Homo sapiens: one gene and its partner. The protein of the gene in region 2 purifies or fractionates together with the protein of the main gene of each other region. This does not show direct contact. Each region holds a gene or a part of one and is shown on either strand. Other genes may lie near its edges. The genes, in order: NMT2 and ANXA13.

The links.
Region 1: the proteins of ANXA13 (region 2) and NMT2 purify together in Homo sapiens (affinity purification with mass spectrometry; one large-scale study listed by BioGRID and IntAct). This does not show direct contact.

The regions. Positions count from the first base shown.
Region 1 is NC_000010.11:15,112,887-15,116,712, forward strand, and holds part of NMT2 (glycylpeptide N-tetradecanoyltransferase 2), read right to left. Parts: intron 78-3,826; coding exon 1-77.
Region 2 is NC_000008.11:123,682,642-123,685,517, forward strand, and holds part of ANXA13 (annexin A13), read right to left. Parts: intron 2,082-2,876; coding exon 1,969-2,081; intron 1-1,968.

The DNA of each region.
Region 1 (3,826 bases), on a different chromosome or scaffold from region 2:
TTGTGAGCAGGGTGGTGCATCACCGTGGAGGGGAGCGTATAGAAGCTCAGGAAATCAGTCAGTTTACCGTTGGGGCTCTAGGAGCAAAAGTGCTGTCAGACAGAGATCTCCTTGAACCAACTGCATACGTGCATTTCCACTAACTCTGTTCTCTCCCTTGCCCCAGAGAACGAAAAGCAGTAAGTCACACTTCTTTCTCGGCAGTCCAATTTGGGGCCCCTTATATTGTGCTGTGTAGAGGCCAAGAAGGGCCTGGAGTTGGGACTTCAGCCTAAGTGCCCATTGGTGATTTGCACAAAGTTCTTAGGAAGCAGAATGTCATGCCTGTAATCCCAGCACTTTGGGAGGATGAGGCGTGTGGATCATGAGGTCAGGAGTTCGAGACCAGCCTGACCAACATGGTGAAACCCCATCTCTACTAAAGATATGAAAACTTAGCCAGGTGTGGTGGCGCACACCTGTAATCCCAGCTACTTGGGAGGCTGAGGCTGGAGAATCGCTTGAACCCCAGAGGCGGAGGTTGCAGTGAGCCAAGATTGTGTCACTGCACTCCAGCCTGGGCGACAGGATGAGACTCAAAAAAAAAAAAAAAAAAAAAAAAAAGAAAGAAAGATAGAAGCAGAATGTCCTAAAAGGAAAGCTTCCCTCAGGCTGACAAATGAGTCAATTCTTTAGACTAAGGGAACAGTGATAAAAGCAGATTCATTGTTTTTGCAGAAATAAAAGCTTTAAGGATTAGAGGGCTGCCTTCTCCAACTAAAAGATACTGTGTACTATCTCACACTGTCTTAGCACACAGAAAGAATTATATCAGGCCTAAGTAAGGTTGGGTAGAGTCTGGAAGCTGTTTGGAAGAGTTCGCAAGCTTGTGAAAGGTCTTACTACTGCACCAAAATATACACATGTGAACAACTGGAGAATTTTGCAGCTATCAAAAATAAGGGATACAATGGATGACATTCATTTCATCATCACTGGCAAAGCTTCCAATACAAGAAATTAGCCAGTATTGTTCGGGTTGTTGTAATTAGCTGTGGTGGCCTTGCTGACTTTTAGAATATGATGTGTTTGAATCGTGCGGCTGAAGAGGCTGGACCACACACATGCCACTGCTAGTATTTCTTTCAGCAGAAAAGGAAATTCCAGAAGGATGTATGCTTTGGTTTTCAAAGGCTTCCGAGTCATTAGACCTTTCTTCAGCCAGCAAGAAACTAAAGGGGTTAATCTACAGTGATTCCCTACTGCTCTATATTAGCAGCTCAGTATTGGAGATGAATTCAACCTTCAGGTTTAATAAGGATTTTAGATTCTTCTAAGAATTTCTCATATCCATCTCATACGCTGAATTACTGCAGGCACCTGCAGAACCTGATTAGGTTCCCCACCCCATTTTCATCATCTGCTTTCAGAAAACTACTTCTTCACATTCATATTGCTGGTAAAATTACTGTTTCCTCTCTTGCTGTTAAAATGACCAGAGAATCACCAACTGTTGGGGAAGAGTGGGATGATCTTTCCATTGTCCCTCACACCCAATCAATTGTAAAGACTGATAAAAAACAAAACAAAACAAAACAAAACAAAAAAACCCCGCTCACAACAAAACCCACCATGGCACCATGTCTAGATGGCTTATAAGCAACTTCTAACAACTTTCAAGGAACAAGTAATCCCTATTATTACATACACTGTTCCAGAGAAAAGAGAGGACAAGCTCTTCAGCTCATTCTAACTTTGGTATCAAGACAGGACAAGGACAGGGTAAGAAGGGGAAATTAATGGCCAACCTCAGTAGTGAGTATAGAAGATCCTAAGTAAAATATTAGCAAACTAGGGCTGGGCATGGTGGCTCATGCCTGTAATCTCAGCACTTGGGGAGGCCAAAGTGGGTGGATTTTCTGAGCTCAGAAGTTCGAGACCAGCCTGGCCAACGTGGTGAAACCCCGTCTCTACTAAAATACAAAACATTAGCAGGGTGTGGTGGCATGCGCCTGTAGTTCCAGCTACACAGGAGGCTGAGCACAAGAATTGCTTGAACCCAAGAGGCGGAGGTTGCAGTGAGCAGAGATTGCACCATTGTACTCCAGCCTGGGTGACAGAGCAAGACACTGTCTCCAAAAAAAATTAAAAAAAAAAATTGGGAAACTAAATCTAAAAACAGAGGTAGTCTCACACAAATGGAAACCAAAAGAATGTGTCACTAGCAGACATACCCTGAGACTGGCTAAAGGAATTTCTTCAAATAGAAAGGAAATAATAAAAGAAGGAATCTTGAAGCATCAGGAAGGAGGGAAGAATAATAGAGTAGAAATTTGGGCTACATATAATAAATTATGCTTCTCCTCAAGCATCATTATTAATCAGTGTTACAAATCATACTTGATGATTAAAACAAAAATCATAATACTGTCTGATATTTAAGACAACAATATTTAAAAATGAAAAAGGTAAAGTGACCTAAATAAAAGTAAGGTGACTCAAAGTAATAAATGTTGTTACCAATCGACTATAAGTCACATATATATATTGTAATACTCACATCAACCATCATAAAAACTATACAAATACACCCAAAGGTACTATAAATAAAACAGTATCCTAAAATATATTCAAGTAATCCACAGCAAGGCAAGAAAAAAGAAACAGAGGAACAAGAACCAGAAGAAACATAAAGAAACCAAATAATCAAATGGTAGACTTAAGCTCTACCATACCAATAATCACCTTTTATGTAAGTGGTCTAAATACACCAATCAAAAGAAACATCAGTAGTGTGGGTAAAGAAACATGACCCAGCTATAGGCTGTTTCCAAGAAACTCACTTCAAATTCAATAACATCAATAGTTTGAAAGTAAAAGGATGGAAAAAGTCCAAACAATTTTTAAAAGCAGGTCTGGTCACAGTAATATACAATAAAGTATACTCCAGAGCAAGGAAAATTATTAGAAAGAGAGGTATTACATTATGATAAAAAGATCAATCCACTAGGGAGACACAAAGACCCTAATATACATGTGAGTATCAAACAAGAGGCCCAGAAGAAATCAAGAAAAACTGACAGTGTTGGAAGGAGAAATAGACAAATCCACAATTACAGCTGGGGACTTCCATGCCCCTCTCATCAAGTGATAGAACTGCTAGACAGAAAATCAGCATGGAAACAGAAGAGCTGAATAACTCAATTAATCAACATGATGCAATTGCCATACAAAGAACACTCCACACAACCGTAGTGGTATACACGTTTCATGCACCCATGGAATATCCATCAAGACAGTCCATATCCCGAGTAATAAAACAAACCTCAAGAGCCTTAAAATAATCAAAACCATACAGTGTGTGTTCTTTAACCATAATTGAATCAAACTAGAAATCTGTAATAGGGAGACAACAGAAAATCTCTAAACACAGCAAAATTGAACAGCACAATTCTAAGTAGGGGTGGGCTAAAGAGGAAGCCTCAAACGAAACCAAAAAATACATAGACGTGAATGACAACGAAGATACAACATACCAAAATACGTCAGAAATAGCTAAAGCAGTGCAGAGAGGGAAACTGATAGAACTAAATGCTTACTAGTAACAGGGAAAGGTCTCAAGTCAGTAAGTTCTTCCCTCAAGGAACTAGAAAAGAAGAGCAAAATAAACCCAAAGCAAGCAGACAGAAGGAAACAATAAACACGAGGGTAGAAATCAATGACACTGAAAACAGGAAGACAACAGGGAATATCCAACAAAAGTCTGGTTCTCTGGGAAACAAATCAATAAAATGATACAAGTCTACCAATATGGACAAAAACAAAGAAAGAGAAGACACGAATCACC
Region 2 (2,876 bases):
TGTCTGTCTCTCCCCCAGCCTGTGTGTCCCCCTGCTCCGCTGCTTGGCTCCTTGCCCCGTGCTGGGACACGGGCAGGAAGGTGGAGGGTGGGTAGGGATGGGGTGCACAGGGCTCTGTTCTGTGGCTTTGGGAGATTAGGAAATCTGGCCAAACTACTATATCTAGCCAGGCCTGAAGCCTTCTGAGGTAACTGCCCACATGTTGAGATGGCCCAGGACGTGTGGTTGATTCTGAGATGGGACAGAGCTTCTTGGAATAAAACACTCCGTGGGCCATGTCGGAGTGATCACGGAACCCTCACAAGCCCTTCGGATGGATCCAGTCTCTCTGGGGGTCATTTGGAATCCTGGGTCTTCATTGTGTTCAACCTGTCCCTTTTGAGTCCCTCAAGATCTCTCATCTCTCAGTGACTTTGGCTGGAGGTCGAGTTGCTAACAGACAGAGGGACGGACAAGGCAGAAGACCTGGAGAGAAAGGAGGGAGAGGGATTTGGAGCCATGGAGGAGAGAGGCAGAGGCATGGCAGGAGCAGAGCAGAGAGACTGGCAAAGGGAAAGAGGGGAGAGAGAGAGACATGGCCTTCAATAGAAAAAGATGAGTTGTGGAGGAGGAGAAAGGAGGGGAGGAGAAATTCCAGGAATAGAAATAAAAAAGCAAGAACCATCTTGTTGCAAAGTTATATTTAAAAACAGTGTCAGATGTTAAGCATTATTTGTTAAGAAGCCATGGATCAGAATTTGGGTTGGTGTCCCTCCCCCTTCACCTCCCCCTTCATTTAACCACTTTTTTTTTTTTTTTTTGAGGGAAGATGTCTGTGGTTTTCAAGTGCTTAGTTCCACTTCATTCCCCAAGGCTTCTCCTGCTGCCGATGAAATGCCACTTCCCCTTTATTTTGTACCACCTTCTGTCTGTGGCCCCATATCCCGAACTGTTAGCTGTGACCTTTTTTTTTTTTTTTTTTTTGAGACCGAGTCTCGCTCTGTTACTCAGACTGGAGTGTAGTGGCACCATCTTGGCTCACTGCAACCTCCACCTTCTGGGTTCAAGCAATTCTCATGCCTCAGCCTCCTGAGTAGCTGGGACTACAAGTGTGTGCCACCATGCCCAGCTAATTTTTGTATTTTTAGTAGTGACGGGGTTTCACCATGTTGGCCAGGCCGGTCTCGAACTCCTGACCTCAGGCGATCCACCCACCTCGGCCTCCCAAAGTGCTGGGATTACAGGCATGAGCCATTGCACCCGACCAGCTGTGATCTTGACGGCTGCTCCCAAGCCGTTGGCTCTTCCTCTCCCTTTTCTTTCTTATACATACACATTCTCCGAGAGCAAGCACAAATTGGTTTTTAGGGGGTGAAAAAGCCCTTAATTTTTTTATGTATAAAGCACTGATATCCACATGGTATATAAACAGATTTGTAGTATTATCTCTGGTGTTAACATTTCTTGTGGGGAAGGGATGGCAATGAAGAAACACGTGTCTAAAAAGGTTCCTTAGAACAGCAATAGTTTTTAAAAAGATTGAGAACCATTGCCTTATGCTGATGTGCTTGCTTCTGCAGTGTGTTCAGTTAAGGAAAGGCCTCACTCAGGAATTCAGAAATCATTCTCTTTTTGTTCCTGCTGCTGGTTGACCTCTTTCAAGTGTGTTTGTTTTGTCTTCCTTAACATGGAGCCATGCATAGCTGCAGCCCCTGAGAACTGCTCGACATGGTTGCCTCTGCGCCCCTCCACTAGCTCTCCAGAGCCACAGAGGACAAAAAAAGAAGCAACGATCATTATTGTATTTTTATAAAAAGAAACAGATTGAAGCAGAGCACAATGTCTTCTGCAAATTCTGGGAAGGCAAGGGGCCGTCTCTGTTTTACTTTTTCTGTAAATAGGCCCTTAATAGAAACTATTTGTTGATGACATCAGTGGTGGAAAAAAGAGAAGTTGCAGCCGCCTCTTTGGAGTCGGAGTGTGTCTTACCTCGGCCCTGGTCACGACTATGCGAATCAACGTCTCCTCATCGGTCCCCGCACCCTTCATCGACTTGTACAGACGTTCAGCAAAATAGTCCTCACAATCCTGGGCACATCTCACTGGGCAGGACAAAGGAAAAGAGAATGTGAGGCTTTCACGTTTTGTGGAATGACCTTGGGACCCCCCTAAATGTCACCTGGCTGCCCTTCGAGCTGACTGGATGGTGAGACAGAGGTGTGAAAAGAGCTGACTTGACACCGTTGCGAAATGAGATTTGGAAGATTCCCTGGTCAGAGCACCTGGAATCTTCAAGCATAGCTCCCCTCCTGTCCCCTGAAGACCCTCTAGAGGAGAGCTGTGGCATCCTCGGGCCCTCCCGGCCACGTCCATGATTCTCGTTATTTCCCAGCAGAAATAACTTTCCCTATCGAGTGAAATCTCTGGTGCTGTCCTAGGGTTCTGAAGGGAAACAGATTGGCCAGCAACCTTCTGGAACAAAACTTCATCATCTTGACAATGTATCCAGTTGGACAGCCGCCTGCTCTCCTATGCTCAACAACCTCCCTACTCTTTGTTTTTCCTCACTGGGGTTGTTTTGCAAGCCTCATCTCTGAACCTTTTCCAGGTTCCCCACGATCTTTTGGTTTGCAATCCGGGATGTGGACTTGATGAAATGTTTGATCCTTTTTAAAGATCACTTTCCTACGATGCTGCTATTTGCTCTTTCCTGGCTTCCCCTTGCCTTCCAGCTTTGATCTATCTACAGCTTAATGAAGCGTGGTCTCTATTCATCAAGCAGGTGACAGGGTGCATCTCTTCTCCTGGGAATAAATCATTCCTTCCCCTCTTCCCAGGCTCATATGAATCCATCATGGCTAACACGTTAGAGGAAAAAAAAAATATTTGCCCTTTAG